2 separate regions of the Homo sapiens genome follow, and region 1 is linked to region 2. A link means that fine-mapping ties the variant in region 2 to the expression of a gene that starts in the linked region. Tissue or cell type: non-classical monocytes. Region 2 holds a variant in brackets; the other region holds the start of a gene. All regions are shown on one strand. Distances are from middle to middle.

Region 1 (16,010 bases), 29 kb before region 2:
TATTTTTTCAAACTCCTATATTCCTTTATTTTCTTCCTCTCTTCATTTTCTTGACTATCCAGCTTAAATTCTATGATCCATCATTATAATGACTCCCTTGTAAATACAATCAATTACCTTGTTCCTCTCTCTATCTTACTTTCCTGGCATAACCCTGACCTTGGCTGAAGGTAACTATGTTCCATTTTCTCAAACAATGGAAACATATAGGAGAAAAATCATACAATTGAGCTGACTGGTTTCATTTTAAAATCATTACCATAAACCTCAAGGGCTCACTCAGCACTGCTGGGTAATTCCATTGTTTCCCTGTATGGTGTTCTCCAAGTGTTAGTCATTCCTCTATCATCTGTATGACTTTTGCTGTATCTGAATACTACCTATGCAATCATTTACTAAATAATTTAGCTTAAGTTGATTCCAATTGAAAAATGTACCCATATCCTAAACTTTGACCTAGACCAGGGGTTGGCAAACTATGGCCCATAGTTACCTGTTTTTATATGGCCCATAAGCTAAGAGTCAGTTTTAAATTTTTGGTTGGTTTTTAAAAAAAAGAATAATAATATCTTGTGACACATGAAGATAAGTGACATAAAATTCAAATTTTGGGGTCTATAGGTAGTTTTATAGGAACATAGCCACATTTGTTTATGTTTTGTCTCTGGTTACTTTCACACTCAAACAGCAGGATTGAGGGGCTGCAAAAGAGACTACATGTGGTGCTCTTATCATTTTGCCCTGCTCATCCACAAATCACAAATAATAGGGGTACAGTTATAACTCTACCGTGTTTGGTAAAGTACCGTATGTATTGTACTATGGTGACATTTACTTTACTTTTAAAATTACCAGAGCTTACTCATCATGTTAATACAAGAAACGTGGATTTTGGATGTCATGCTTTTAAGACAGTGGATAGTAGATTATATTTGTAGAATTAAATGCCAAAGCATTATGTTTACTATAAACATGACACTATAGATGTGCTAAAAGAATACTTAGACATTGACATAACTAGACTAAGCACTTGTTATAATATCCTTAACTCACAGAAAAGTAACAGTTAGAAAAATTAGAAAATTTAAAATGGAATATCTGACCACAGCAGAACTGTCTCACAAAAATAAAAGATAAAATGAGGCCGCAACCAAAGTCAGTTTCTGAGTGGTTAATTTATTAGCCAGGCAAAGAGAGCCATTTACCAATGTTGAGTTCATTAAATCATGTTTAATTGCTGCAGCCAAAGAAACGTGCTCTTAGAGAAGATAAACTTGCCTTTCAGTGAGACTGGTTGTTCAGGGTTGAGGATGTTGGGAGCAACATGAACATATTTTTGCCTTAAAAACAAGGCAAATGATTTTCTTTGGCTCTTGACAAGTTCACAAATGTTAACAATACTGAGCAGTTGTTATTTGAAATATCAGTGCTAAGACTGAAGTAATCAAAAAAAGCCTGTGTGGAGAGAATACAGGTGAGAATATTTTAATAGAAACAGAAAACACGAACTCAGTACAATCTGAAGTAGAATCTGATAAGATGTGTTAAAACTGATGACGGTAAAAATATGTGTTCACCAGAAAAGGGTTTAATTGGGTACATTTACAAAGCTTTTGAAAATGAAAAGCCTGTGGTTTTTCATGATATTATTCATCAGCAAACACATCACAGAAAATATTTGTATTTATCAGGCATTATTAAGTCAGTAGTGTAAATGTTGAACTTCATCGCTCTTGTGGACTTAACCATTGTCACTTCTACAAGTTTTTGCTGGAAATAGAAACCATATATCCTGACTTGCTCTGATGCACAGAAATTTGATGGATCAGTGGTGACAATGTTTCATTTCAATTTTTTGAACTCAGGGCTGAGATGGAAAGTTTTTCCAAATAAGAAACACAGCCTTCAGTCAGTATTATTGAATACTGAATGGCTTTGGAAATTAGCTTTTGCTGTAGAGTTGGTAATATTTATTAATCAACTCAAGGTATAATTACAAGGTAAGACAGTACTATATGCAATAACTGCTAATGTTGTTCTAAGTACAGGCTGTCAAGCTGTCCTATATCCTTTCTATGCTGATGAAATTTAAAACAAGATGTGAAATCTTCATTCTCACACAAATATTCAGCCCTCAATGCACATGCAAAGGAAATTCCCATATTTCAAAAATATATTAATATTCAACTGTAGTTGAGGAGCTTCCATCTAACCTTCAACTGGAGGCTTTTAATCTGCAGCGTAATGACATGCTAAAAGATAAATATCAACATAAAAATCTAAGGTAATTTTATAGATGCCTTCTGAGTGATTAATATGCTCAATTTAAATCACATGCTTATGAAATGAAAGCAATAGTTAGCAGTACCCATCTGTGTGAATGACATTTTTAAAGATGAAACATGTAAATTTTCATTCCAGATAAGCATTAAGAAGTGGAAATTTGGCCAGGTGTGGTGGCTCATGCCTGTAATCCCAGCACTTTGGGAGGCCGAGGCAGGTGGATCACCTGAGGTTGGAAGTTCGAGACCAGCCTGACCAACGTGGAGAAACCCCGTCTCTACTAAAAATACAAAATTAGCCAGGCATGGTGGCGCATGCCTGTAATCCCAGCTACTCGGGAGGCTGAGTCAGGAGAATCACTTGAACCCAGGAGGTGGAGGTTGCGGTGAGCTGAGATTGTGCCACTGCACTCCAGCCTGGGCAACAACAACAACAAAAAGTGGAAATTAGGAATAAATTTTGATGATAGGAAACACTAACTTTGAGCCTTAGTGAAGAAAAATGTTATTCATCCCCCAAACTAATTATGTTCTTATTAGTAGTAGACTTCAGCTCTTCTAGGGAAACCCCCAAAGGGAAAAAAACTTTAGGAATAATTGGCTGCCAGGTGATTCAGAGGACAGAGGATTCAAAGAAGGCTCGTGGAGCTCTTGCTTCACCCCAGACTTTCCATAATCCTCCCGATTGGTTGACACTTTTCCTATAAAAAAAACATGTGATGTGGTCCTTCTGGCAGTCCTTTGCTAGAAAGTGCTTTCTCCTCCTAGAACAGAAAAATGTTAACATTGATTGCCCAGTTTATCCCTCTAAATTTTTCCAAGAATATTAAAGTATTTTAAACTTGCAATTTCACAACTGAAAGATCACTTCAGTAAGACCATGAATGGTGGTATTATATTATATACAACAAATCTTTTTGACTAGTTAAGAAAATACCAATTAAAACAGAATTCAAATGTATTGAATTTACAGTCAAATAAACATCATATAGGACCAGAAAAATATGTTTATTGTAGGTGTTTTTTAGAACCTTATATTTACCCAACTAAAATGTCTTGAAATGTACTTTACATTTTTGATAAGATGTTTTTTAAAAGAACAATTGTGATTTACCTTAATAGTGAAACTGAAGGTCTTTCAGTTTATTTTTCATAAAGTGAGCTCTCAGTGGTTCTCTAAGCTTAGCGTATAATAAAGTTATAAGATGGATCACATTTATTTTAGGTGTAAAAATATATTGGAAACAGTCATATGTATGGGGAAAGATAGAAAATGGACCTTAAAATAAATGAAATGAAATGTATGAAAATCTTTGGAAATGACACTGACAAATTGTTTGACAACCAACTTTATGTCACAATAGAACAAATAAGGGACGGGGATCTGTTTTAGGATGAATTAAAGTCATTGCTGAAGAGTGTTCATTTATTAGATAAATCAGGATCAGCAAACAAGTGAAACAAGTCTAGGAAAGGACTGAGAATGGCTTTAAAGACCTTTAAGAGCTGCCACTCGCTTGGAATAGCAGGTTTCAGTGGTCTGTACTTCACCAAGTAATCTTCTGGTAGATGACTGAAGGAGCTGCTTGCAGGTTTTGAGAACATTTCGTTCAGCTAGGACTTAGTCCATTCAGGCTGCTATAACAAAAATACCTTAGACTGGGGAATTTATAAACAATAGACATTTATTTCTCACAGTTCTGGAGGCCAGAAAGCCCAAGATCAAGGAGCCAACAGATTGGTGCCTGGTGAGCTCCTCCTGTTCCTTATGGATGGATGGCACCTTCTTGCGGTGTCCTCTTTTTTTTTTTTGAGACGGAGTCTAGCTTTGTCACTTAGCTAGAGTGCAGTGGCGCAATCTTGGCTCACTACAGCCTCTGCCTCCCGGGTTCAAGTGATTCTCGTGTATCATCCTTCCTGAGTAGCTGGGATTATAGGCAGCCGCCACCACGCCTGGCTAATTTTTTGTAGAGATGGGGTTTCAGGCTGGTCTTGAACTCCCGACCTCAGGTGATCTGGCCACCTTGGCCTCCCAAAGTGCTGAAATTACAAGCCTGAGCCACCATGCCCGGCCTGTCTTGCTATATCCTCACATGGAGGAAGAAGCAAGGGAGCTCACTCAAGCCACATTTTTTAAGTTTCAGAAATGTTGCTTTATATATAGATATAGATAGATATGTCTTTTTAAGAAAGAATTTTGCTTTTGAAAATTTTTTCTTCATTTAAAAATTTTAATTTTTTTTTTTTTTTTTTTGAGATGGCGTCTCACTCTGTCGCCCAGGCTGCAGTGCAGTGGTGCAATCTCGGCTCACTACAAGCTCTACCTCCCAGGATCACACCATTCTCCTGCCTCAGCCTCCCAAGCAGCTGGGACTACAGGCGCCTGCCACCACACCCGGCTAATTTTTTGTATTTTTAGTAGAGACGGGGTTTCACCGTGTTAGCCAGGATGGTCTTGATCTCCTGACCTCATGATCCGCCTGCCTTGTCCTCCCAAAGTGCTGGGATTACAGGCGTGAGCCACTGCGCCGGCTAAAAATTTTAATGTGTTTTTTAAATTGACATATGATTGTATATATTTATGGGATTCATAGTGAAGTTTTGATACAAATAATATATAGTGACCAGGATAATTAGCAGATCCATCATCTCAAACATTTATTATTTCTTTGTATTAGGAACATTCAATATCCTCCTTCTAGCTATGTGAAACTATATAATGTACTATAGTGAACAGTAGTCATCAAACAGTGGTATGGAACACTAGAACTGATTCCCCTTGTCTAGCTGTCACTTTGTATCCTTTAACAAATCCGAGCCACTTTTAGAAGGGCTAATGTCAATCATGAGGGTGGTGCCCCCATGACTTCATCATTTCCCAAAGGCCCCACTTCTTAGCACTATCACAATGGGTATTAGGTTCCAACAAATGAATTTGGGGTGGCGAGCACCAACATTTAGATCACAGCAAGTGTTTAGGAAAATACTAAAATTAAGCCTACTCTTTTAAACAACCTTTAGACAATTAAAATGTCATAGGAGTGATTTCAGTGACAAGTTTTCAATCGGAAGTCAAAAGCTCCAAAAGTTATCATATTACAAATGTTCCCGTGAGAAACATGTACATCTGTAAAACAAACAAGCAAACAAGCAAAAGGAGGAAACCAGAGTTCTAAACTTACGACACCACAAGAAAACTCCAAAACAGAGGTCTGTACGGAGGTATTGTGGGCCACACGGTGCTGCCCACACACGGGGTTTTGTGAGAGGTCTGGACTGGAACTTGTTTGTACATTTTTTCTTCCCTCCTTTGCTTAAACTGTTATCAGACCTAGAGACCGCCCCCCTCCAACTCCCAGCCTGAAATGTTCTACCACCATGGTCCCAGCTAGCCCAAATCGTCATCTCCTCCAAGGTCCAGACCTCGGGGTCCCCCCAGCTCAACTTCTTTGACGTCATCACATCATCAGATGCTGCTTGAAGAGTCACTTGGCTCATGTCTTGATATCCCAGAAATCTCAAAGGCATCTGGGGAGGGCTGAGCCAAGTACTTTTTCTGCCTCCAGTTACCACAAAATCACATTGTTTTATACAGAGAAAAATCTGTTTCATGCTGATTTTTAAAGACTGCAAATTTATATCTTCTATTCTCATGAATAAGAGCTACAAGGTTGACCAAACTGAGCAGAATTAGGCTTTATGACATGGGATTCTTAAACAATTGGATTAGAGTTAATGGAGAAGGATTTCCATCTGGTTCTCTTCCAGGTGTCTTGAGTTTTCATCAATTTTGTGTTTCCTCTGGCAGTGTTGGTTCATTGAAAATTTAACAAGTTTGGCCGGGCGCAGTGGCTCACGCCTGTAATCCCAGCACTTTGAGAGGTGGAGGCAGGTAGATCACCTGAGGTCAGGACTTCGAGACCAGCTTGGCCAACATGGTGAAACCCTGTCTCTACTAAAAATACAAAATTAGCAGGGTGTGGTGGCACATGCCTGTAATCCCAGCTAGTCGGGAGGCTGAGGCAGGAGAATCGCTTGAATCCAGGGGGCGGAGTTTGCAGTGAGCAGAGATCGCTCCATTGAACTCCAGCCTAGGTAACGAGCGAAACTCTGTTTGAAAAAAAAAAAGAAAAGAAAATTTGACAAGTTTGTAGTGGTTCTACTGCAAGGAAAAACTACAACTTAAAAATGTGTTTACTCCAAATTGTACTATTAATAGGAGATTTCTGAAAGCCTAAGTTTTCATTAAGAACTTTTTCTTTAACGGTGCATCAAGTGAAAGCCTTGAGATGATTCTGGATTAGATATATGGCAAAGTTACCGTGAGCTCAAAAGCCATTGTCCAGATGAAGAAATCCTCAGGGTCAATATGAATGCACATAGGATGACTGATGGAATCCAAGAAAAGCTGCCATAGCTCTGATTTTGCCTTTTTGTGTTGTCTTTAGAGACATGCTCTTGCTCTGTCGCCCAGGCTGGAGTGCAGTGGTGATCATAGCTCACTGCAGCCTTGACCTCCTGGGCTCAAAGCTATCCTCCTGCTTTAGCTTTCTTTTTTTTTTTTTTTTTTAAGATGGCGTCTTGCTCTGTCACCCAGGCTGGAGTACAGTGGTGCTATCTCAGCTTATTGCAACCTCCGCCTCCCAGGTTCAAGCGATTCTCCTGCCTCAGCCTCCCAAGTAGCTGGGATTACAGGCATGTGCCACCACACCTAGCTAATTTTTGTATTTTTAGTAGAGACAGGGTTTCACTATGTTGGCCAGGCTGGTCTCGAACTCCTGACCTCAGGTGATCCACCTGCCTCAGCCTCCCAAAGTACTGGGATTATAGGTATGAGCCACCTCACCTGGCCCCGCCTTAGCCTTCTGAGTAGCTAGGACTACAGGTGTGCACCACCATGCCTGGCTAATTTAAAAAAAAAAAAAAAAAACTTGTAGAGATAGAGTCTTGCTGTATTGCCCAGGCTGGTCTCAAACTCCTGGCCTCAAGCAATCCTCCCACCTGTTTGATTTCATGTGTCTCAAACAGCATAGGAGTCTACTAAAGGCTTTTTTCTTTTTTTTTTTTTTTTTTTTTGAGGCAGATTCTTGCTCTGTCACCCAGGCTGGAGTGCAGTGGCTCAATCTTGGCTCACTGCAACCTCTGCCTCCCAGGTTCAAATGATTTTCCCTGCCTCAGCCTCTCAAATAGCTGTATTACAGGTGTCCGCTACCACGCCCGGCTAATTTTTGTATTTTTAGTAGAGACAGGGTTTCACCTTCTTGGCCAGGCTGGTCTCAAACTCCTGACCTCAAGTGATCCACCCATCTCAGCCTCCCAAAAGTGTTGGGATTACAGGAGTGAGCCACCGCGCCTGGCCCACCAAAAGCTTTAAAGTGAGGTGAATGCAGATTCCATTTTCAGATTCTGCTACAAATTGTGGGACCTTAAACAAGTTACTCATCTTCTCTGTGCTTTAGTGTTATGATCTGGAGCCTGATCTTCATTCTACCACTTACCCTGTACATCTTGGAAATTTTATTTTATTTCCCTGTGACTGTTGCCTTGTCTTGCAGATGGATTATTCTAACATCCACTTCATAATCTTGTTTCATTTAAGGAGATTGATCATACGTGGGAAGCACTTAGAACAGTGCATGGACGAGCACGAGTATTTCATAATGAGCAGCTGTGGCTGTTACTAACACTGGTATTACTAGTACCCGTACTTCCAGGCAGGGTTGTTGAGAAGGTGAAATGAAAGAACGCACACCAGGGCAGGCTACATAATTTGTGGACCCCGGTACAGAATGAAAATGCAGGACACCTTGTTCAAAACTTCCTAAAAACGTCAAGACTGGGACAGCTGAGTATTAAACCAAGCGCAGGACCCGGACCTGCACAGGTTGCACGCTCGCAGACACATTTGCACACAGTGTGTGCTAAATAAATGCTCCGTTCACCCTTGTGAAGTTTCCTATGCCTCACTCGCGCCAGCACCGTTCACAGTGCCCACTGGCTGTATTTATCGCTGACATAAGGATGAGGCCTGGAATTGCATTCACTGCAGAGTCCCACCGGGAGGACCGACCGTTATCCCCGCCGACTCCCCCCAGGTCGCCCTGGCAGTTTCGGCCGCTCAGTTGCAGGCCCTCGCCACGGAGGCCACGCTCGGGGGTTCGGGGTCCACCCCGGCCTCCTGCGGCCGGGCCACCCTACTCGCGCGCAGCCGCGCGCCGCCGCGTCCCCGCGGTGTTTACCCGTTGCCCGAGGAGACACCCGCGCCACCCGCCGGCTCCCGGCGCCGCCGCTTCCTCAGGGCCGGTTCCGGGTCCGAGCGCGCCCCCGGGCTCGGGTCGTCATGAGCCTGGACTGCACCAGCCATATCGCGCTGGGTGCCGCTTCGCCAGCGCCCGAGGTACGGTCCCAGCCGCCGGCCGCGCGCGGGGGTGGCCCTGGGGATAGACGACCCAGGAGGGGCCGAGGCGCCCCTGATTTGCACCCTTTTCCTCCCGGAGGCGTGGGCAGAATCAGAGCAGCTCTGTGCCCGCGAGGGCTGTGGCCTGGGACTGCCAGGGCGCTGATTTCAGGAGGGGATGGGCAGGACCGGAGTTTGCGGAGCGCGTCTGAATTTTAGGTTGTGCCACTCTGCTTCTCTGACCATTTAAACCGGTGACATTCGAAAGACTGTGGCCGGGCAGTTCCTCCCCGCCACCCCTGGGAGCAAAGAATTCCTTCATTTAACTTTCCCTGCTTAGCTACTGAAGTGTGCTTCGGAGCAATTTCTGGAAAATCTGATGTGGCAGGAGGAGGGCCAGCCCGGAGTAGAGTCACCGGCCCTTTCGTTGCGAAGTAATCCAGAAACGTTGGTAATTCAGTTGTTCCTGAATGCATCTACTCATTTACTCCCAGGAGTTACTTAGGTACTGGGGACTTTCAGGTATTAGATGTACCAATGCGCGCGCGCACACACACACGAACATGCGCGCATACACAGACGCTCGTGCACACACGCGAACAGGCACATACGCGAACAAACACGGGCGCGCACACACACGAACACGGGCATATGCATACTTGGGCGCACAAGAAGATCTGGCTGGCTCAGTCTGGGTTAAGAATCCCCCTTTGGCCTTGGCATCGGGGCCCACCGGGTATCGTGTGTATTGGGAGTAGTTGCCAGAGATGGGGGAATTGTGTTCAGCTCAACTGCTAACCGCAAGTAACTCACCCAATTAGTAAATGATGGAGGATTTTTCTTTCTTTCCAAAGTTTTGGACTTTTCCTACCACGCTGTGTACTGACCATAGATATCCCTGGGGGATGTAGTGGATTCAAAACATGAGTTGGATTCTCCAACGTGCCATCGGAATTCTTCTAATATTCAGCAGCTTTGATTGTTGTTTTACATCTGACCTGTATTTAGATTTCTCTGATTCCTGGAATATTTGTGGAAAATAAGTACCACTGTGTGCAAATAAAACTATTTTTTCTTTCTTTCTAACTCAGAGGCCAGTTACTAGATGTTTTTTCTTTCATCTGACATTTTCATATTTGACTTTATTAATTTTTATCCCAATGTGGTGTCTTAACCATACATAAGTATGTGGTATTTTTATATTATTAATATATATTTTTTTTGGTGAGCCCATTGAGAGTAAATTACAGCCATCATGATTCTTTCTTTCTCTCTCCTTTTTTTCTCTTGTTCTCTCCCTCCCTCCTTTTCTTTCTTTCTTCTTTTTTTCAGACAGGGTCTCACCTTGTTACCCAGGCTCGAGTGCAGTGGCACGATCTCGGCTCGCCGCCGCCTTGACACCCCTGGGTTCAAACGATCCTCTCACCTCAGCCTCCAGAGTAGCTGGGACTCCAGGCATGCCATGATGCCTGGATAATTTTTGTGTTCTTTGCAGAGGCAGAGTTTTATCGTGTTGCTCAGGCTGGTCTCAAACTCCTGAGCTCAAGCGATCCACCTGCCTCAGACTCCCAAAGTGCTGGGATTACAGAGATGCACTACCATGCCTGGTCCCCTATGACCTTTCATCTGTAAATACTCTGGTGTGTTATCTCCTATGAATAAGGGCATTCTCTAACGAACATACAATGATCAAAATCGGGATGTTTAGCATTGTGACAATAATATTATCTAATATACACGACCTACTAAAACTTTGCCACTTGTCCCAATTATGCCATTTATTGCCAATTTTTTTTCCATCTCAGGATCACACACTGTATTTAGTTATGTCTCCAGTCTCTTCAAACCTGGAACAGTTCTTCACATTTTTTTTGTTTGTTTTTTTGTTTGTTTGTTTTTGTCTTTGATGATACTGACATTTTTGCAGAGTCCAGGTCATTCGTTTTATAGAGTAAGTTTCTCTGATTGTCCTTCGTGATTAGATTTTTGGGTAGGAATAACATAAGAGATGTTATGTCTCAGAGTATCACATCAGGAGGGGCATATATCAGCTTATCCCATTATTGGTGATGTCCCCAGCTGGTGGCCTCTGCCAGATTTTTCCCCTTTAGCAATAAATAAGAAATCATATTAGTTGAGTAATAATATTGATTCGGATAGAAATTTTTAGCATAAGTCACTGCCTACAAAAGGAAAATGTCCATTAAGCATGAGATTTTAATTGGCTTAAAATAACTAAATTTTATTGAGAACAAAAGTAGCTGCAGAAAAGGCAGCATTTATTACAATTAAATGTTCAGTTTGCAAAATACTTTATCTGAGATCATCTTATAATTTAGATAGGCGGGGCAGAAATTTCTCACTATATAAGATGAGGAAATAGCTTACTGGATTAGAAATGATGGAGCAGGGACTTGTATCTTTCTTTCAAAAGCTTTGTACTTTTCCTACCATGCCAGACTGAAAACATTAAATTACAAAGCAGTGATAGTCTGCAACTTTCTGGAAAAGTAAAATACTGTAGAGACTGAGATACTAGTTTTAGACTCAAAACTAGATTCAAACAATCCTGATTATACCACTCATCTGTGACATCTTGGTCAAAACAATTAATGTATCAGCATTTTAGTTTTTTCTTCTAAAACATGGAATCATAAAACTTATCGCATAACGTAGTTTGAGGATTTCACGGTTAATAAATGTAAGGCACTCAAGAGAGTGTCTGACAGAATAAGTGCATATCAATATTAGCTATCGTTATTCTTTGTAACTTTTGGAATTTGCTTTGGTGTCAACACCACTGCACCTACTCCTACCATCATCACCAATGCTTCCATCAGTACTTCAGCCACCATCTCAATAGTCAGTGTTTTGAGAATCTGTAGGAGGGACAGAGGATACAAAAATGAATTGGAGATTGACCCTGCTCATAATGAAGAATTGACAGTTTACAATCCACTTTGGGAGGCAGAGGTGTGTGGATCGCTTGAGCCCAAGAGTTTAAGACCAGACTGGGCAACATGGCAAAACCCCGTCTCTACAAAAAACACAAAAAGTACCCAGGCATGGCCTGTAGTCCTAGCTACTTGGGAGGCTGAGGTGGGAGGATCACTTGAGCCCAGGAAGTTGAGGCTGTTGTGAGCCTTGATCGCACTACTGCACCCCAGCCTGGGCAACAGAACAAGACCCTGGCTCAAAAATAAAATAAAAATTAAAAAAGAGTTTACAATCAAGAAAAACAGACACATAAAAAGATTACTCCTTCATCAACACTAAAATTTAATGCTGCACTCTTCTCAAGTTGGATTTACCTATAATGCGATCACCAGCACAGCCTTACTGGGATGGAAAATGTGACAAATACTAACAGCAATATTATGAGAATTGAAGTGGAGCAGCCCAAACATGAAGGAAAGAGATATGCTTTGGGGGAAGTTTACAAACATAGCTTTCAGTAAGACTGCATAACTTTGTCATGCATTTGAAATAACGCTACCCAGTGAAAATGTGCTGGGTGCGGTGGCTCATGCTTGTAATCCCAGCACTTTGGGAGGCTGAGGCGGGAGGCTCACTTGAGGTCAGGAGTTCGAGACCATCCTGGCTAACATGGTAAAACCCCGTCTGTACTAAAAATACAAAAAGTAGCCAGGCTTGGTGGCAGGTGCCTGTAATCCCAGTTACTGGGGAGGCTGAGGCAGGAGAATTGCCTGAACCTGGGAGGCAGAGGTTGCAGTGAGCCAAGATTGTGCCACTGAACACACCATCTCAAAAAAAAAAAAAAAAAAAAAAAGAAAAGTGACCTAATTATAAAATAGGATCACCAGTCAGCAAAAAGCTGTAGCAATAGTTCTGTGGAAAGTGCTTGGATTCCAAATCCTCTGACACCAGTGAGAAGCCACAGACATATGGTGGCTTGTAGGCTCTCTTGCTGTGGCAGTGTTTTCACATACCTGGAAAACCTAGATCAAAGTTACAGCTCCAGTAGATACCATTGTTGGGAATTTGAGCATCTCTTTCCTTTCTGTAAAACAAGGGTTAATTAGAATAACTATCAACAGAATTGTTATGAGAAGCAAATGTAAATAGCAACACACTCTATCAGCAGCTATAGTTCCTCAAAACAAAGGACTTAGAGCTGGTCATAGCTAACTATAAAGGAGTTAAAGTCTGTTTTCCTTTTTCTTCCCATCATTTCTACTTTTAAAAACCTCATATAAAATACATATAACATAAAATTTGCCATCTTAACTTACAAATGTACAGTTTAGTGGCATTAAGTACATTCACATTGTTGTGCAACTGTTGCCACAAGCCATCTTCAAACCTTTGTTCATCTTGCAAAACTGAAACTCTGTACTCATTAAGCAATAACTTCACATTTCCTCCTCCCCACAGCTCCTAACAACCACCATTCTACTTTCTTTCTTTATGAATTTGACTATTCTAGGCATGCTGTATAAGTGGAATCAGACTGTATTTAACTATTCTAGGCATGCTGTATAAGTGGAATCAGACTGTATTTGACTATTCTAGGCACGGTGTATAAGTGGAATCAGACTGTATTTCAGTATTCTAGGCACGCTGTATAAGTACAATCAGACTGTATTAAACTATTCTAGGCATGCTGTATAAGTGGAATCAGACTGTATTTGACTATTCTAGGCACGCTGTATAAGTGGAATCATACTGTATTTGACTATTCTAAGCACTCTGTATAAGTGGAATCAGACTGTATTTGACTCTTCTAGGCACACTGTATAAGTGGAATCAGACTGTATTTGACTCTTCTAGGCACACTGTATAAGTGGAATCAGACTGTATTTGACTATTCTAGGCACGCTGTATAAGTGGAATCAGACTGTATTTGACTATTCTAGGCACTCTGTATAAGTGGAATCAGACTGTATTTGACTATTCTAGGCATGCTGTATAAGTGGAATCATACTGTATTTGACTATTCTAGGCACGCTGTATAAGTGGAATCAGACTGTATTTGACTATTTTAGGCACGCTGCATAAGTGGAATCAGACTGTATTTGACTCTTCTAGGCATGCTGTATAAGTGGAATCAGACTGTATTTGACTCTTCTAGGCACACTGTATAAGTGGAATCAGACTGTATTTGACTCTTCTAGGCACACTGTATAAGTGGAATCAGACTGTATTTGACTCTTCTAGGCACGCTGTATAAGTGGAATCAGACTGTATTTGACTCTTCTAGGCACGCTGTATAAGTGGAATCAGACTGTATTTGACTATTCTAGGCACGCTGTATAAGTGGAATCAGACTGTATTTGACTATTCTAGGCACTCTGTATAAGTGGAATCAGACTGTATTTGACTATTCTAGGCATGCTGTATAAGTGGAATCATACTGTATTTGACTATTCTAGGCACGCTGTATAAGTGGAATCAGACCGTATTTGACTATTTTAGGCACGCTGCATAAGTGGAATCATGCTGTATTTGACTATTCTACGCACTCTCTCTGTATAAGTGGAATCAGACTGTATTTGTCCTTCAATGACTGGCTTATTTCACTTAGCATAATGTCCTCAACGTTTCTTCATGATGTAACATGTATCAGAATTTCCTTCCTTTTTAAGCTTGAAATATATTCCATTGTATGCATATGTCATGTTCTGTTTATCCATTCATCTGTCTCTGCACACTTGTGTTGTTTCTATCTTTTGGCTGTTGTAAATAATGCTGCTATGAAAATGAGTGAACCAATATCTCTGTGAGACCCTGCTTTCAATTTTGAGGGATATATACCCGAAGTGAAATTGCTGGATCCTATGGTAATCCTATTATTACTTTTTTGAAGAACTGCCACTGTTTCCGTAGTGGCTGCACACATTTTACATTCTCACCAGCAGTGCACAAAGGTTTTCATTTCTCCACATCCTCACCCCCACTTGTTATTTTCTGTGTGTTTTCTTCCTTTATTGTAGCCTTTCTAATGGGTATGAGGTAGTATCTATTTCCACTTTTTAAAGAACCATTTCCTCCCTCTTCTGGTTTGCTCTGTTTTTTTTTTTTTTGTTCTACTCCTTTTTCTCAAAATCAAGTTTAAGAAGAGATCTGACTCTAGTTGCATGTCTTCATATGAACTTAAGTCAGAAGCCTTCTCTAGATATAAAGAAAACCAATCTCCACCCCACCACCCCCAAAAAGAGAATATAGAGAAAAAGAAACAGAAGGAATAGGGAAAAAAGAAAACATAAATTATAGTTGAAAGAAATACAAACATATCAGTAATTATGATAAATATATATGGAGAAAATGCTTAGTTAACTAAGAAAAGCCATATTGCATTAAAAAAATCTAAATATATACTATTTATGAAAGACACATTTAAACAAAAAGATATGGGAAGGTTGAAAGTAAAAGTGTATAAAAATGTGTATCAGGCACATAACAACCAAAATAAAATTGATTGGCTATATTAATATTATGCAAAATACTTTAACACAAGAAAAGCATTAGTAGTGGTAAAGAGAGTCACTAAATAATGATAAAAATTTCATTCATCAGGTAGTTGTAATAATTCTAAATGTATATGTTCCTAAGAACACAGCATCAAAATAGAAAAACAAAAATTGGCAGAAGCAAAAATCTATAAGGACAAATAGACAAATCCACAACTAAAGAGAATATTTTAAACATATCTCTTAGTATTTTGTAGATCAACCAGACAAAAATTTGGTAAGAGAGCTGCTAAAAGTGCTAAAATGCAAATTTGGTGACGTCACTGTGAAGAATAGAAATATGTAAAATATTTGGGATGTGGCTGTAAAAATTAACAGGATTATTTTTCCCCAATTACCCAAGGGAATAAATGCCTTTTGTCTATGAAATAATAAGCCAGACAAAAGCTTAGAAATTGTACTCTATTGGTAGGAAGTGAATTAGATGAGTAATTAAATGTTTCCCCTTGTTTTAAATTAAAATGCTTTATACTATTAAAAATAATGACTATCTAATTATGAGCAAACGTTAGACAAACCCACCTTGAAGGATATTCTACAATATGTTGACCAGGACTCTTCAAAAGTGTCAAGGTCAGGATTTGGGGAGACTAAGGAAAAATGAAAACTAAATGGCTTCTGGACTAGAAAAAGGACATTAGTGAAAAAAAAACTGATTATATTGGAATAAGGCCTATTACTTAGTTAATAGTGTTGTAACAATGTCAATGTCTTGGTTTTAATAGATTACCTTAGTTGTATAAGTCGTTATTATTAGGGGAAGCTGGCTAGAGGGCATATAGAAACTCTGTTTTGTTTTGTAACTTTTTTGGAATTCTAAAATTATTTCAGAATAAAAAA
Region 2 (16,010 bases):
GCAAGAAACTGGATCAAGGTGATGAGGAATGCACTCTTAATACCTGAACAAGAGGTCTTGGAAATTGTGTTTCTTATATTAACTAAACAAATGTAGTCAAATGCTATTATAAAGGATTGGCTGAAGAATATGCATTTCATTCATTCTATGCTCTACTTCAAAATTATCCTTGAAATGCAAGAGCCTGGGAGAGATGTCTACTTGGACTACATTGTTTGGACCCTGTTTTAGGCATTGGCATTACGCCATTAGATTTGTAAATCAAAAAGTATCTGAGACAAGTCTCCATCAATTTATTTACTTATTTATTGAGACGGAGTCTCACTCTGTCACCCAGACTGAAGTGCAATGGTGTGATCTTGGCTCACTGCAACCTCTGCCTCCCAGGTTCAAGCGATTCTCCTGCCTCAGCCTCCCAAGTAACTGGGACTACAGGTGCACATCACCACACCTGGCTAATTTTTGTATTTTTAGTAGAGACAGGGTCTCACCATATTGGCCAGTCTGGTCTGGAACTCCTGACCTCAGGTGATCTGCCTGCCTTGGCCTCCCAAAGTGCTAGGATTGTAGGCGTGAGCCACTGTGCAGGTGGGAAGCCCAGGTTCTTGTTATATAGATGATGCCTCCAGGTAGCAGGCTTCAGAGACAATAGATGGTAAATGTCTTCTTATCAGACCAATAAAAGGTGGTAGACTCTCCTGAAAAGACCTAATAAAGGAGAGAGATTCTTTACAGAATATACATTTCCTTCACAAGAGACAGCTTTGCAGGACCACTTAAAAATATGACAAAGAAAGTGTGGCGCAGTGGCTCATGCCTATAATCTCAACTCTTTGGAAGTCCGAAGCGGGTGGATCACGAGGTCAAGAGATCAAGACCATCCTGGCCAACATGGTGAAACCCTGTCTCTACTAAAAATACAAAAATTAGCTGGGTGTGGTGGCACATGCCTGTAGTCCCAGCTACTCGGGAGGCTGAGGCAGGAGAATCACTTGAACCCTGGAGGCAGAGGTTGCAGTGAGCTGAGATCGCGCCACTGCACTCCAGCCTGGTGACAGAGCAAGATTCTGTCTCAGAAAAAAAAAAAAAAGAAAAGACAAATATATTTTGAGGTAAAATACTTCGATTTCTTTCAGGGCTGTTATCTGTCATATAATGCTATACTAGAGTCAGGTTGGAATTTGGTATCTTATTGCTACAGGAGTCTGTTCTCTCAGTCTTAAGATCTCTGTTTTAATGTTAATGCTGGTCAGTTGTGTCTGAATTCCAAAGGGAGAAGGGTATAATGAAGTATGTTGGGCCTCCATTTTCCATCAAGGCTTGAACTAGTTTCAGGTTTACTTTGGAATGCCCTTGGCCAAGAGGAGGTCTCCATTCAGTCAGTTGGAAGGCTTAGAATGTTATTTTTAGTTGATAGATTGTTTTGTGGGTTTTGAAATTTGTCATGATTTCTTGTCATGAATGGGTGTGTTGTAACTGAGCAGGTTCTTTGCTTTACCATGAGGTCCTAGTAAATCATGTTGAAGCGGTGTTGTTGTCTAGGGTAAATACCCAGGGTTTGTCATCTCGCACCAAGAAGATTAAGGACACAGACACACATGAGGAGTGAGTTTAGGAGCAGAGGTTTGATAGGCAAAAGAAAGAGAAAGAAGAACAGCTCTCTCCCTTGAAAGAGAGAGGAGTTCCTGAAAGGGAAAAACTGGTCAGCTCTAGACTGTACCAGATTTTACAGGCAGGCTTGAGGAGACAGTGTCTGATTTACGTAGGGCCCAGAGATTGGTTCAACCAGGTGCGATGTTTACCTAGTGCGTGGGGAAGGCTGGTGGTCCCACCCTAATCTTATTATGCAAATGGAGTCTTTGCCTGGCTGGTGCCATATTGTCTTTTCCTTACTGTGCACATGCTTTGGCAAAAAGAGAGAAGATGAACATGCCTAGTCCCAGGAAGCCTTTTCCTTTTGGCACAACTGCCAACTTCCACCCATGCAAGCTTCCAGCTTACTTGTCTATGCCTGCAGCTTGATTTTACAAGCTGCTCTTTGTTAGGAAAGAAAATGATTTTGGGGCCGGGCACAGTGGCTCACGCCTATAATCCTAGCACTTTGGGAGGCCTAGGTGGATGGATACCTGAGGTCAGGAGTTGGAGACCAGCCTGACCAACATGGAGAAACTGTCTCTACTAAAAATACAAAATTAGCCAAGTGTGGTGGCACATGCCTATAATCCCATCTACTCGGGAGGCTGAGGCAGGAGAATTGCTTGAATCTGGGAGGTGGAGGTTGCAGTGAGCCAAGATCACCCCATTGCACTCCATCCTGGGCAACAAGAGTGAGACTGTGTCTCAGTAAACAAAAAACAAAAGAAAATTATTTTGGGGCTGCTTTTCATTTAAAAGAAAACCTTACTGAGGACTCCCATACCCTTACTAATGATTTCTTCTTCTTCTTTTTTTTTTTTTTTTTGAGATGGAGTCCTGCACTGTCACCCAGGCTGCGTGCAGTGGCACAATCTCGGCTCACTGCAGCCTCTGCCTCCTGGGTTCAAGCAATTCTCCTGCCTCAGTCTCCTGAGTAGCTGAGATTACTGGTGCCCAACACCATGCCTGGCTAATTTTTTTTTTCTTTTTGTATTTTTAGTAGAGACGGGGTTTCACCATGTTGGTCAGGCTGGTCTCGAACTCCTGACCTCGTGATCCACCCACCTCGGCCTCCCAAAGTGCTGGGATTACAGGCGTGAGCCACCGTGCCCGGCCACTAATAATTTCTTCTTAACTCCTGTATCAATGTGACTCATGTCTGTCGACTTGGAAGGGCCAAGTCAAGCTGTGGTCTACCTCTAGGAAGTGTACAATACTCACAGCACATATATAATACTCCTGTGCTTCCTCTTATTTTTTCCCTCCTTTAATTTTTCTTTACGGCCATTTGCTTCTTTTTTTTTTTTCATTCTTTCTTGTTTTCACACTGGATAAGAAATAGCCCTTAAGCTTTGGATGGAAATTAAAGGAATTCTCAAAAATCCAGGCCTTTTGCAAACAGTAAAGATTATACGAAACACTAGCAAGGTGGGGCCTTGCCTTCAGTTTATGGTCCTGCCATGGTACAGGAGAAGCATGTCCCAGAACAGCCACAGAGTCCAGAAGAAGGCAACCTTTCTCCTTTTGACTTGTAGTTATGGTATACATCCATGTTTTTTAGTTTGTTAATGCTTCTGGGTGGACCAGGCTGAGATGGAGTGTTGCAAGCTATCTTTCTTAGTGTGGGAAAATCTGTGCACTTTCTAAGCCAGCCCATCTCCAGGGGGTGGGATCTTGGAGAAATCAGGCAGCTCCAGGGGCTGAGGGGATTTGGTTTAGCAGATGAGAATGGGACGAGACTGTCAAGTCAATCAAATGTGAGGACTAAGATGTTAGTAAAAAAAGCATACATTTGTTACCAGGAAGGAGTCCCAATCCAGACCCCCAAGAGAGGGTTCTTGGATCTTGTTCAAGAAAGAATTTGGGTGAGTTCACAGAGTAAAGTGAAAGCAAGTTTATTAATAAAGTAAAGGAATAAAAGGGTGCCTACTCCATAGGCAGAGCAGCCTCGAGGGCTGCTGGCTGGCTATTTTTATAGTTATTTCTTGATTATGTGATAAACAAGGGGTATATGTATCAGGGGAACCAGCCCCCAATATTTCAACGTAGGTTCTTTCTATTTTCCCTAAGGGTCAGGCGGCTGAGAAATAAAGAGAAAGAGTACAGAGAGGAATTTTACAGCTGGGCCTCCATGGGTGACATCACATATCGGTAGGACCATGATGCCCACCTGAGCTGCAAAGCCAGCAGGTTTTTATTAAGGACTTTAAAAGGGGAAGGGGTGTACAAACAGGGAGCAGGTCACAAAGATCACATGCTTCAGAGGGCAAAAAGGAGAATGAAGATCACGTGCTTCTGAAGCCAATAAAGATCACAAGGCAAAGGGCAAAGCAAAGATCACAAGGCAAAGGGCGAAATCAAAAACTCCTGATAAGGGTCTATGTTCAGCTGTGCATGTATTGTCTTAATAAGCATCTTAAACAACAGAAAACAGGGCTCAAGAGCAGAGAATCGGTCTGACCTCAAATTCACCAGGGTGGGATTTTTTTCCCCACCCTAATAAGCCTGAGGGTACTGCAAGAGACCAGGGTGTATTTCAGTCCTTATCTCAACTGCATAAGACAGACACTCCCAGAGCGGCCATTTATGGACCTCCCCCGAGGAATGCATTCCTTCCCCAGGGTATTAATTATTAATATTCCTTGCTGGGAAAAGAATTTAGTGATATCTTCCCTACTTGCATGTCCATTTATAGGCTCTCTGCAAGAAGAAAAATATGGCTCTATTCTGCCCGACCCCGCAGGCAGTCAGACCCTATGGTTGTCTTCCCTTGGTCCCTGAAAATCGCTGTTATTCCGTTCTTTTTCAAGGTGCACTGATTTCATATTGTTCAAACACATATGTTTTACAATCAATTTGTACAGATAACACAATAGTGGTCCTGAGGTAATGTACACTCTCAGCTTACGAAGTTAAGAGGATTGAGAGATTAAAGTAAAGACAGGCATAAGAAATTATAAAAGTATTAATTTTGGGAACTGATACATGTCCATATTAAAATGAAATCTTCACAATTTATGTTCCTCTGCCATGGCTCCAGCCGGTCCCTCCGTTCGGGGTTCCTGACTTCCCGCAACATATATTATTCATGAGTTTTCTAGGAAAGGGATGAGGAATTCCCAGACCGGAGGGTTTGTCTTCTTTTTAGACCATACAGGGTAATAACCTGAAGTTGCCATGACATTTGAAAATCGTTATGCTAGTGGTAGGAGTGTCTTTTAGCATACCAATGTATTATAATTAGCATATAATGAGCAGTGAGGATGACCAGAGGTTACTTTCATTGCCATCTTGATTTTGGTGGGTTTTGGCCAGCTTCTTTATTGCATCCTGTTTTATCAGCAGGGTCTTTGTGACTATACTTTATGATCTCCTATCTCATCCTGTGATAAAGAATGCCTAACCTCTGGGAGATGCAGGTCTCAGCCTCATTTTACCCAGCCCCTATTCAAGATGGAGCCACTCTGGTTCCAATGCCTCTGACACATTCATTCACTTAATTCTACAAATAAGTATTGCATGTTTACATTGTGAGGTCCTGAGTAGGGGAGGGAGGAAGACATTGATTACTTATTAAAAATTAAACACACAGCTTATTCCTTCCCCTTGTGATAAGTGCCAGGAGGGAGAAACAGGGGTTGCTGTGAGAGGAGAACTGAAAGACAGAAATATGGTCAGTGGGAACTGTGATCGGCAAAGATGTACAGACACAGGACCCTGGGCAGACAAATAATGAAACCGCCTTTGCGAAATTATGACTGAGACAGTGAAAGAGATCTAATCTAACTGACTCCATCTTGTTTGTAACCTTTAAGCTGTCCTTGTTCCTTCCTAGGTGTAGGCTGAAATAACTTTGGGAGGAATTTGGTTTAGAGTTTAAAATAAAGATAACAACACTTTCCCAAAACAAACCTCCTTCTTGCCTGGGGACTAGACTGCCTTTGTAGTACTAAGACATTAGCCACAAGATTAGAAATTATGGTTAAGGAGTCATTGCAGCTGGAGGCTACAAGACTCTGACCCTCCCTAAACTGCTCCTAAGATCCATGCTTGAGACATTTTGCAGACCCTGCACTTGATGGATCAGCTGGCATGACCCAGATTGATAAACTGGCCCATCTGATCTTGTGGCCCCCAGCTAGGAACTGACTCAGCACAAGAGGACAATTTCAACTTCCCATCTCTTACTTAACCAGTCAACATTCCTGGTTCACTGGCTTCCCCCCACCCACCAAGTTATCCTTAAAAACTCTGATTCCTGAAGCTCAGAGAGACTGATTTGAGTAATAAGAAAACTCTGGTCTCCTGCACAACCAGCTCTGCATGAATTAACTCTTTCTCTATTGCAATTCCCCTGTCTTGATAAATTGGCTCTGTCTAGGCAGCAGGCAAGGTGAACCCATTGGGTGGTTACAAAAATGGCTTGGGAAGAGTTTAAATTGTAAATATTAGAAGAATGAGAGGATTACTATGAAGGTGTGCATGCTGTTCATTTGCTGATTTTGTTCATTGGCTTCTGATTCCTTCTTACCCTCCCCAGCTGCCTCCTGTTACTCTCTTTATTAAATTGAGGGTGAGCTCTGGTTATAAAGGAGACAGTGGGTTCCATCTTTTGAAAGGATGGGATCCTAAACTGGAGTCTACCTATGCCTGTCCCAAAAAGAGTGTTGAGGACACTCTTGTTATCCTTCTGATAAGTAATGAGAGTTGCTAAGCACTACAGTATAAGATTTGTAATCTGCTGTTAATACTATTTGTTCTGAAAACAAAATTGTGAAAGAAAATAATAAAAATCTAATTGTGGACTTTGTCTCATTGCAAGTATCAGAGGCGTTCAAATCAGAGTAACTCCATCTTGGATAGGGATTGGGTAAAATGAGGCTGAGATCTACTGGGTCACATTCCTAGGAGGTTAGGCATTCTTAGTTAACAGGATATTTACAGTTAAGGGAACAAGTTAATAATGTTTATTGAACAGACCCAGGACTTAAGTGACCCAGGAAATAGACCAAGGAAATGTCTTGATGTCCCACTGTCTTAAGAACAAAAGCATTCTTAGTTTAAGCGTAAGTTTCGGGCCAGGCGTGGTGGCTCACGCCAGTAATCCCAGCACTTTGGGAGGCCAAGGAGGGTGGATCACGAGGTCAGGAGATAGCGACCATCCTGGCCAACATTGTGAAATCCCGTCTCTACTAAAAAAATACAAAAAAATTAGCTGGGCGTGGTGGCAGGCCCCTGTAGTCCCAGCTACTCAGGAGGCTGAGGCAGGAGGACGGTGTGAACCCAGGAGGCGGAGCTTGTAGTGAGTGGAGATCGAGCCACTGCACTCCAGCCTGGGTGACTGAGCGAGACTCTGTCTCAAAAAAAAAAAAAAAAAAAAAAAAATTTGTTGGGCATGTTGGCATGTGCCTGTCATCCCAGCTACTCGGAAGGCTGAGGCAGGAGAATCGCCTGAACCTGGGAGGTGGAGGTTGCAGCGAGCTGAGATTGTGCCATTGCACTCCAGCCTGGGTGACAAGAGTGAAATTCCATGTCAAAAAAAAAAAATTTCACTTTAAAGATAATACTATAGATTCTTGCAGAAGACAGTAGTTACACAAAGATTAACAATCCTTTATTGCAAGGCCTTGTAGAGAACATCTTCCTCATGTTTTTTGCTTTGTTATCTTACATGTAAACAAGCATTGTATCTTGTTAGATATGAGTTCTCAATTTCTTTTCAAAGAATTAATATGTAGTATGTTCAATTCTTTGACTTCTACTTTTAAACTTAACTTCCTTGTAAAGGAACCTTTTTCAATGACCTACTCCACCCTGACTCATTCCGATCACCTGCTCAACCCCAACTCATTCCAATTACCTGCTACCTGCTCTGCCCTGACTGGCGCCAAAGTACTCACCCCGTCATTCTCTTTAAATTAGCCAATGGGAATTAGTTTAGCCTGTGCAGTCTAACCCTAGCCAATAGGAGAACAACACAGCAGCAGGGGCCACGTGCATCAGGGAAAAGAACCCCTTACCCTCCCTTGTCCAAGTGTGCGCTCACCATTGCTCCGTCTTTAAGGGTGCACCCTTCTACAGAAGTAACTTGCCTTGCTGAGAATTAAAAAGAAAATGTTATATTCGAGTGCTATTCCTTTTGTGGCACTGAAACTTTATAACAACCTTGCATATAAACAAGCATCGTATCTTACATAGAAACAAGCATCGCACCTAAGGTGTGCGCATTTCTCTTCTTGCTTTCGAGAATGCCCTGCTCTATCTGCTGTCTAGAGAGTAGCCATTCTTTTATTCCTTTACTTTCTTAATAAGCTTGCTTTTACCTTATTCTGTGGACTTGCCCTGAATTCTTTCTTGCACAAGATCCAAGAACCCTCTCTTGGGGTCTGGAATGGGACCGCTTTCCAGTTACAGTAGAATTGTTATAGGAAGGTTGATTTCTGCTAAAGTGAGACATGGGAAGATTACATACTGCTACAATTTCCCACTTTCTTCTCATGTGTTTACAAAATGGGCCACTGTGGAGGCTCTGTTGCTCTCAGGAGTTTGTGCAGCTGGATGCTATGGATTCTGTCTAACAGAAGAAATGGGTCCTAGAAATGATGAAGCAGCATTATTTTTATTGAGTCTTCTTCAGGCAGAGCTAAGGACACCTTGGAAAATAAAGCAAGGATTTAGTGCATCACAGAAGCTATTTAATTTTCTCTCTGGCATATCCTTTGCTAATTGGAGATGTTTTCCCAGTTAATAAAAGTATTAAAAAAAATTGAATTCTTGGCAGCCAGGCATGGTGGCTCACGCCTGTAATCCCAGCATTTGGGAGGCTGAGGTGGGTGGATCACTTGAGGCCAGGAGTTTGAGACCAGTCTGGCCAATATGGTGAAACCCCGTCTCTACTAAAAATACAAAAATTAGCCAGGCGTGATGGTGCACGCCTGTAATCCCAGCTACTCGGGACGCTGAGGCAGGAAAATCTCTTGAACCCAGGAGGTGGAGGTTGCAGTGAGCTGAGATTGTGCTGTTGTACTACAGCCTGGGTGACAGAGTAAGACTCTGTCT[CA/C]AAAAAAAAAAAAAAATCATTGAATTCTTGTTTTAATCCTTGAAGACACTTAATATTTTGGCCAGAACACTATTTATATTCCGTTTATTTTAACAATGAATTTCCTGTCCCAAATGTAGTCAAAATGTGTACTTGCACAACAAAAGCATTGCAAACACTGCTGTGTTACAGACTGGCCAATGCACCACAATGTATTGGTCTCTTTGTGTGAGTTATCACCTGGAGTACTTTGTCTCAGGACCAAGAGAATTAAAGGGTGAGGTTGGAGCGAAAGTTTAATAAGCGAAAGGAGAAAGCTCACTGCAGGGGAGAGGGGATCCAGAAGAGGGTTGCTGGTTTTTGCAGTTGAATGCAAAGGCTTTTGTAAGAAACCGATGAGGGCTGGGCATCTCATTTGCATAAGGTGCAAATTTCTGGTAGCTCCACCCTGACCTCCTAGTGCACATGTGGGCGCTTAGCTTAAGTTACTCCATATTGCTTTGTTCTCCTTACTATGCATGTGTTAGGGGATGGAATTTTCCATTGCAGGCATGTCTGGGCAAGCCCCCCTGTGCAAGTTCCCTTATCTGTGCCTGCAGGCTGTTCTTCAGTTCGAAAGAATTCATCTGAGGACCCACCCTAACTGTCTGCCTGACTAGTTTCTTCCTTTCTCCTCTCTCAGCTGGAACTCAGTGATTCTCCTTTTGACTTCTACTTTGACCATGCAGGGGTCCAAGTTCAGGATTTCCTGTGGCCTCTGAAGCCAATAAAGAATTCATGAACATGGAATTCACAAACAGTTTTCAGATTCTTGAAGGCTGCAATATATGAATATTAGGATGTAAAACTGAAAACCTAATAAATTGGACTTTTAAAACATGCTTCCAGTTGTCTTTTACTTAATTAAGAAATTGATTTTAATACTAAAATTATAGTCACTTTTTCTTTAAAAATTAGAACATTACAAATGAAGCTACAGTTTCCATTGACAACCACCTCTAATCTTGATCATCTTCTCCCATTGTTCAGAGGTTATTATGATGTAAGTTTGGTGAGTGTCCTTCAGACCATTAAAAATACTTTTTTCATTTCATTTCAATGTGCCTATACACATTGTGCCTATACACAAAAGTTTGGTATGTACTTTTAAGACATAAATGGTGTCATACTGTTAGTTTTGTTCTCTAATTTACTTTATTTAAAAAACAGTATGTTTTTGAGATCTATTTATCTCCAAATAGATCCAAATGGATTTAGTCTGATTCTTTTTTTTTTTTTTTTTTTTTGAGACGGAGTCTCACTCTATTGCCCAGGCTGGAGTGCAGTGGTGCAATCTCGGCTCACTGCAAACTCCGCCTCCCAGGTTCACGCCATTCTCCTGCTTCAGCCTCCCTAGTGGCTGGGACTATAGGTGCCCGCCACTGCACCCAGCTAATTTTTTGTATTTTTAGTAGAGACAGGGTTTCACTGTGTTAGCCAGGATAGTCTCAATCTCCTGACCTTGTGATCCGCCTGCCTCGGCCTCCCAAAGTGCTGGGATTACAGGCGTGAGCCACCACACCCAGCCTAGTCTGATTCTTTTAACTGCTTTGGAGATTTCCATTTATGAATGTACTATATGTCAGGCCTCTGAGCCCAAGCTAAGCCATCATATCCCCTGTGACCTGCACGTATACATCCAGATGGCCTGAAGCAACTGCAGAACCACAAAAGAAGTGAAAATAGCCAGGTCCTGCCTTAACTGATGACATTCCACCATTGTGATTTGTTCCTGCCCCACCCTAACTGATCAATTGACCTTATGACAATACACCCTCCCCACCCTTGGGATAATGTACTTTGTGATATTTCCCCACCCTTAAGAAGGTACTTTGTAATATTCTCCCCACCCTTGAGAATGTACTTTGTAAGATCCACCCCCTGACCACAAAAATTGCTCCTACCTCTACCACCTATCCCAAACCTTTAAGAACTAATGATAATCCCACCACCCTTTGCTGACTCTCTTTTTGGACTCAGCCCGCCTGCACCCAGGTGATTAAAAAGCTTTATTGCTCACACAAAGCCTGTTGGGTGGTCTCTTCATACAGATGTGCATGACACTATAGTTAACTAATTCATGTATTGATGGACACTTACAAAACATGAACATGCATATAAAATTAGAAGTAGGACTGTGGGTCACAGGGTATATGCCAAAGTGTCCCCTACAGTGGCTGGGACATTTTATATGTCCCTTCATTAAGAATACTTTAAATTTGTTTTTATTTATTATACAGGAAAGAAAAGTGTCTCCTGCAGTAGCTGGGACATTTTACATATCCCTCCATTAAGCATACTTTAAATTTGTTTTTATTTGTTATACAGCAAAGAAAAGCAATCATTGCTTCCAGATCTGGTACCAGTCCTTCCTTCCTTCCTTCCTTCCTTTCTTCCTTCCTTCCTTCCTTCCTTTCTTCCTTCCTTCCTTCCCTCCCTCCCTCTCTCCCTCCTTCCCTCCTTCCTTCTCTCTCTCTCTCCTCTCTCTCTTTCTTTCTTTCATCTGTCTTCTACTTGTTTTCTTTTTCTTTTTTTTTGAGATGGCGTCTCTCTCTGATGTCCAGGCTGGAGTGCAGTGGCATGATCTTGGCTCACTGCACCTCCACCTCCTAGGTTCAAGTCATTCTCCTGCCTCAGCCTTCCTAGTAGCTGGAACTACAGGCATGCGCTACCACGCCCAGCTAATTTTTGTATTTTTTGTAGAGATGGGGTTTCACCATGTTGGCCAGGATGGTCTCAATCTCTTGACCTAGTGATCCGCTTGCCTTGGCCTCCCATAGTACTGGGATTACAGGCATGAGCCACCCCGCCTGGCCTTTTTTTTTTTTTTTGAGATGGAGACTCGCTCTGTCGCCAGACTGGAGTGCAGTGGTGCGATCTTGTCTCACTGCAAACTCCGCCTCCTGGGTCCAAGCGATTCTCCTGCCTCAGCCTCCTGAGTAGCTGGGATTATGGCGTGAGTCACGGCCCCTGGCCTTCTACTTGTTTTCTGTCCAGCAATATAATTCCCATTTTAGGCCTTAATTGCCTGATTTTTAGGTGAGGGAATAACAGGACTGTTTTGTGAAGAGTGAAAGTTTTTCTAAGTGCAGCCCCTGCCCACTCAATGAAAAGAAGACTCAGGGGAGCAAGAGTGTTAAGAATATTTTAGAATGCTGCCTTCACTTCAACAAGGATGTTGAATTAGAAGAATTTTTTTTGAGACAGGGTCTCACTCTGTCACCCACGCTGGATTGCAGTGGCACCATCATTGTCACTACAACCTCTGCCTCCCAGGCTCAAGCAATTCTTGTGCCTCAGCCTCCTGAGTAGCTGGGACTAGAGGTGTGCACCACCATGCTTAGCTATTTTTTTTTTTTTTTTTTTTTTTTGCATTTTCAATAGGGTTTTGCCATGTTGGTCAGGCTGGCTACGAACTCCTGGCCTCAAGTGATCCACCTGCCTCAGCCTCCCAAAGTGCTGGGATTACAGGTGTGAGCCATCGAGCTTAGCCATATTAGAAGGATTTTTAACTGAATAAGAGTAACACCCAAGAGAAAAGAGATGGAAAATAATGTAAAAACAATATGATCAGTTTTTTCACCGTACTTGATTTTATGCAGAAATGTCTTCTTCCAAAACTTTTCCCACAAATGCTAAGGTATAGATGCTCAGATATATTTTCTGGATCTCACAGCTGCCACACTCTCCTCTGCAGGCTCTAGTGGGCCCCAGAAACCACGAGCAGATAGAAGAAGGAAGAAAACCAGGAGGGCCAGGAAAGTCCTCCCAAGTGGGGAGAATTGGCAAATAGTCAAAAATTGACAGGATGAATGATAACATTGGAGAAATGCAACTTTCAAGACTTAATGTATACACTGTAAATTAGGGAAGAAACTTTATGTAGTGAGAAAAACATGGACAGTAGGGGAGAGCTTCTTAGAAGGAGTTGCTTACTGGGCACCACTGGAAGCTTGGTGGGGGCGTGGGGAGAAAGAGAGGGAGAGAGAAATAGAAAGAGAGAGAGGGAGAGGTAGAGAAGAGACAGGCACAAGGAGGCATTCCATAATGGAAGAGCCTGCGGTAATACAATTGTGCACTGCAGCATGGGATAATGCTGGGACAAAGAGTAGATTGGTTATGGGATAGAATGATAAGAATGGAATGGATTTAGGAGCTTTTGTGTGTTAGGGGCAGGCAGTGATTTTCTTCTTATTTTTTCGTCCGTGGGATAATAAGACAACTAAATACCATAGTAGCAAGACTGGCCCAAGACATTGTCCCCAGGTCAGATAATTTGGCACATTGTATACTAAATTATGAATAAGCTTATCTTTGCTTTATGCCATTGAGCTTTGAAACCACCCTTTATTCTGAAAAGACTGTGAGCCACCCCGTGAGACAATTTCAATCATTATCATAATAATATCAGTAGCAGAATCAAATCATATGTAGTTGGCTCTCTAAAACTAATCTAAAATTGCTTCATGGGTTAGCTGAGAGGTACCTAATAACTTAGATTGTCCTCAGGTGAGGACAAATGGATGAGTTTTTATTTAATCTTGCCATTTTAAATAGGGGAAAAATTTTTTTAAGGGAAGATTGTTTGATACAGGAAAAGTTGAAGAATTTTCAGAAAATTTTATGAACTCCAGGAGGGCTGAATTAAGAGAGAAAACCCCCAAAATGTCAGCTTTCATATCTGTTCAAGTCTATGTTACCTATGGTTGTTTCTTTGTCATCACCTTCTTCATAAAGACACAGCATAGCAGGGTTGGTGATTTTTGTCTGTCCTTGTCTCTTTTTTTAAATTTAAGAGGGAATGTTCTAATTGTGAAGGTAATACAGTTATTGTAAAGGATTTGTAAATATAGAAGCATAGGTGGGGTGTGGTGGCTCATGCCTGTAATCCCAGCACTTTGGGAGGCTGAGGCGAGTGGATCAGTTGAGTTCAAGACCAGCCTGGACAACATGGTGAAACCCCATCTCTACTAAAAATACAAAAATTAGCCAAATGTGGTGGCGCATGCCTGTAGTCCCAGCTACTTGGGAGGCTGAGGCAGGAGAATCGCTTGAATACAGGAGGTAGAGGTTGCAGTGAGCCAAGATCGTGCCACTGCACTCCAGCCTGGACAACAGAGTAAGACTCTGTCTCAAAATATATATATATGTATATATAAGCATATAATAAAGAAAAAAAAAGTCTACCTTACAACCAAAAGATAACCATAGTTAACACTTATTCCCAGTGTTTTTCTTTTCTTTAAATTATATTTAGTTGTACAAATAATGAGTAAATACATCCTTATTGAAAAAGTCAAACCACTGCGCCTCTCACCACAACTCCAATTGTCGTGTCACCCTCAGGGGTAAGTACTGTTATCAGGTGATGGGGATTCTGTAAAATTCTTTTTTTTCTTGTCTCTAAATATATTTATAGACAAAAACACAATACTTTTCCTCCTGCATGTGTTTTATGAAAAACAGTAACAAACAATGAATTTATATTATCTTATTTTTGTTCAGTGATGTCTTAAGGATATTACCATGCCAAAGCATACAGATCTATCTCATATTACCTGTTGCATAGGATTCAATAGTATAGAAATATTTTTATTTGATAATTGCTTTGTCAACAGGAATTTATGGTTTCAACATCCTCATCCTTCTTGCTGCTATTACTAATAATTGTATTCCTGGGCATAGTGACTCACACCTGTAATCGCAGCACTTTGGGAGGCTGTGGTGGGAGGATCACGAGGTCAAGAGATCGAGACCAGCCGGGCCAACATGGTGAAACCCCGTCTCCACTAAAAATACAAAAATTAGCTGGGCATTGTGGTGCATGCCTGTAGTCTCAGCTACTCGGGAGGCTGAGGCAGGAGAATCGCTTGAACCCGGGAGGCGGAGGTTGCAGTGAGCTGACATAGAGCCACTGCACTCCACCCTGCTGACAGAGCTAGGCTCTGTCTCAAAAACAAAAACAAAAACAAAATAATGGTATAACGAATATCTTTATACATATCTCTATGCACATGTATGAGTATTTTCATAAAGGAGATAATTGGAGAGTGGAGCGGCAGTGTCTTAGTCCAGTTTCTGTTGCTATAACAGAATACCACAGACTGAGTAATTTATGAGGAAAATAAGTTTATTCCGTTCATAGTTCTAGAGACTGGGAAGTCCAAAAGCATGGTGTGGTGTCTGGTGAGGGTCATCCCACGGTGGAAGGGTAGAAGGGCCAGAAAGCATGAGTGAGAGAGAACTTTATTTTATAACAAAGTCACTCTGGTGATACCTAACCTACTCCCAGAATAACAGCATCAACCCATTTATGAGGATTAATGTATCAGGACCTAATGACATTTTTCTCCAAAAATATAATTTTTAATTACTGAATATAATTTCATTGTGTGACTGTATCAGTATTGTTTTTTCTTTATATTAACATTCTTTTATTTTTGAACTCTAGTTGTTTTAAATATTTGCTATGGCAGATTTTTTGAAAATGTTGCTAAAGAGTACCTTTCTGAATATTTTTGTGTTTAATTTTTGGGTTTATTTCCATTTCTTTTGATAAGATCATGAGAAAGAAATTCACCAGGACAAATAGTGTTAACTTTAAAAATTTTTTAATGATACATATTGCCAAATACTTTTCTGGAAATTTTGTACCAGTTTATCTTTATTTGAGCAGTGTATTAGCATGTCTTTCTTATAGAACTATCTTTTCATATGATTAATAATGATAATAATAATAATTATTATTATTATTTTGAGACAGAGTCTCGCTCTGTCAGCCAGGCTGGAGTGCAGTGGCGTGATCTTGGCTCACTGCAACCTCTGCCTCCTGAGTTCAAGTGATTCTCCTGCCTCAGCCTCCTGAGTAGCTGGGATTACAGGCATATGCCACCATGCCCAGCTAATTTTTGTATGTTTAGTAGAGACTGGGTTTCACCATGTTGGTCAGGCTGGTCTTGAACTCCTGACCTCATGATCGGCCTAGCCTCCCAAAGTGCTAGGATTACAGGTGTGAGCCACTGCACCTGGCCAATATGCTTAATTATTAAATATATTTAAAATGTTGCTAGTTTTAAAGATCAGAAATAATAATTAAATTTATATTTAATTGATGATGAGTGAGGTGGGACATTTCTCATTTTATTAGCCATTTATGGCCCTTCTGATAATTGTTAGTTCTTCTATAGATGTTTTCTCTTAGGTCATTGGTTTTCTTACTGGTGTGAATAGGCTCTTTGCATATTAAAGTTTTGATTCTTTGTATTATTTCTGGAAATATTTTTCCAGTTTGCTCTTT

The links. PIP is the estimated chance that this variant, and not a neighbour inherited with it, causes the effect.
Region 1: CCDC170 starts here. The variant in region 2 is fine-mapped to the expression of CCDC170 in non-classical monocytes (Schmiedel 2018, PIP 0.95).

Annotation. Positions count from the first base shown.
Region 1 is chr6:151,485,507-151,501,516 of GRCh38, forward strand. It overlaps CCDC170 (coiled-coil domain containing 170), which reads left to right and starts at 8,511. Exons shown (of 11, transcript NM_025059.4): 1 at 8,511-8,679. The coding sequence starts at 8,623. It overlaps LOC124901436 (a long non-coding RNA gene), which reads right to left and starts at 12,700. Exons shown (of 2, transcript XR_007059817.1): 1 at 12,630-12,700; 2 at 10,901-11,558.
Region 2 is chr6:151,514,991-151,531,000 of GRCh38, forward strand. All of the region lies in intron 1 of CCDC170 (coiled-coil domain containing 170), which reads left to right. Among named protein-coding and RNA genes, the nearest start is that of CCDC170, 29 kb to the left of the region's middle. The variant CA/C (reference allele first, on the strand shown) is at 8,695.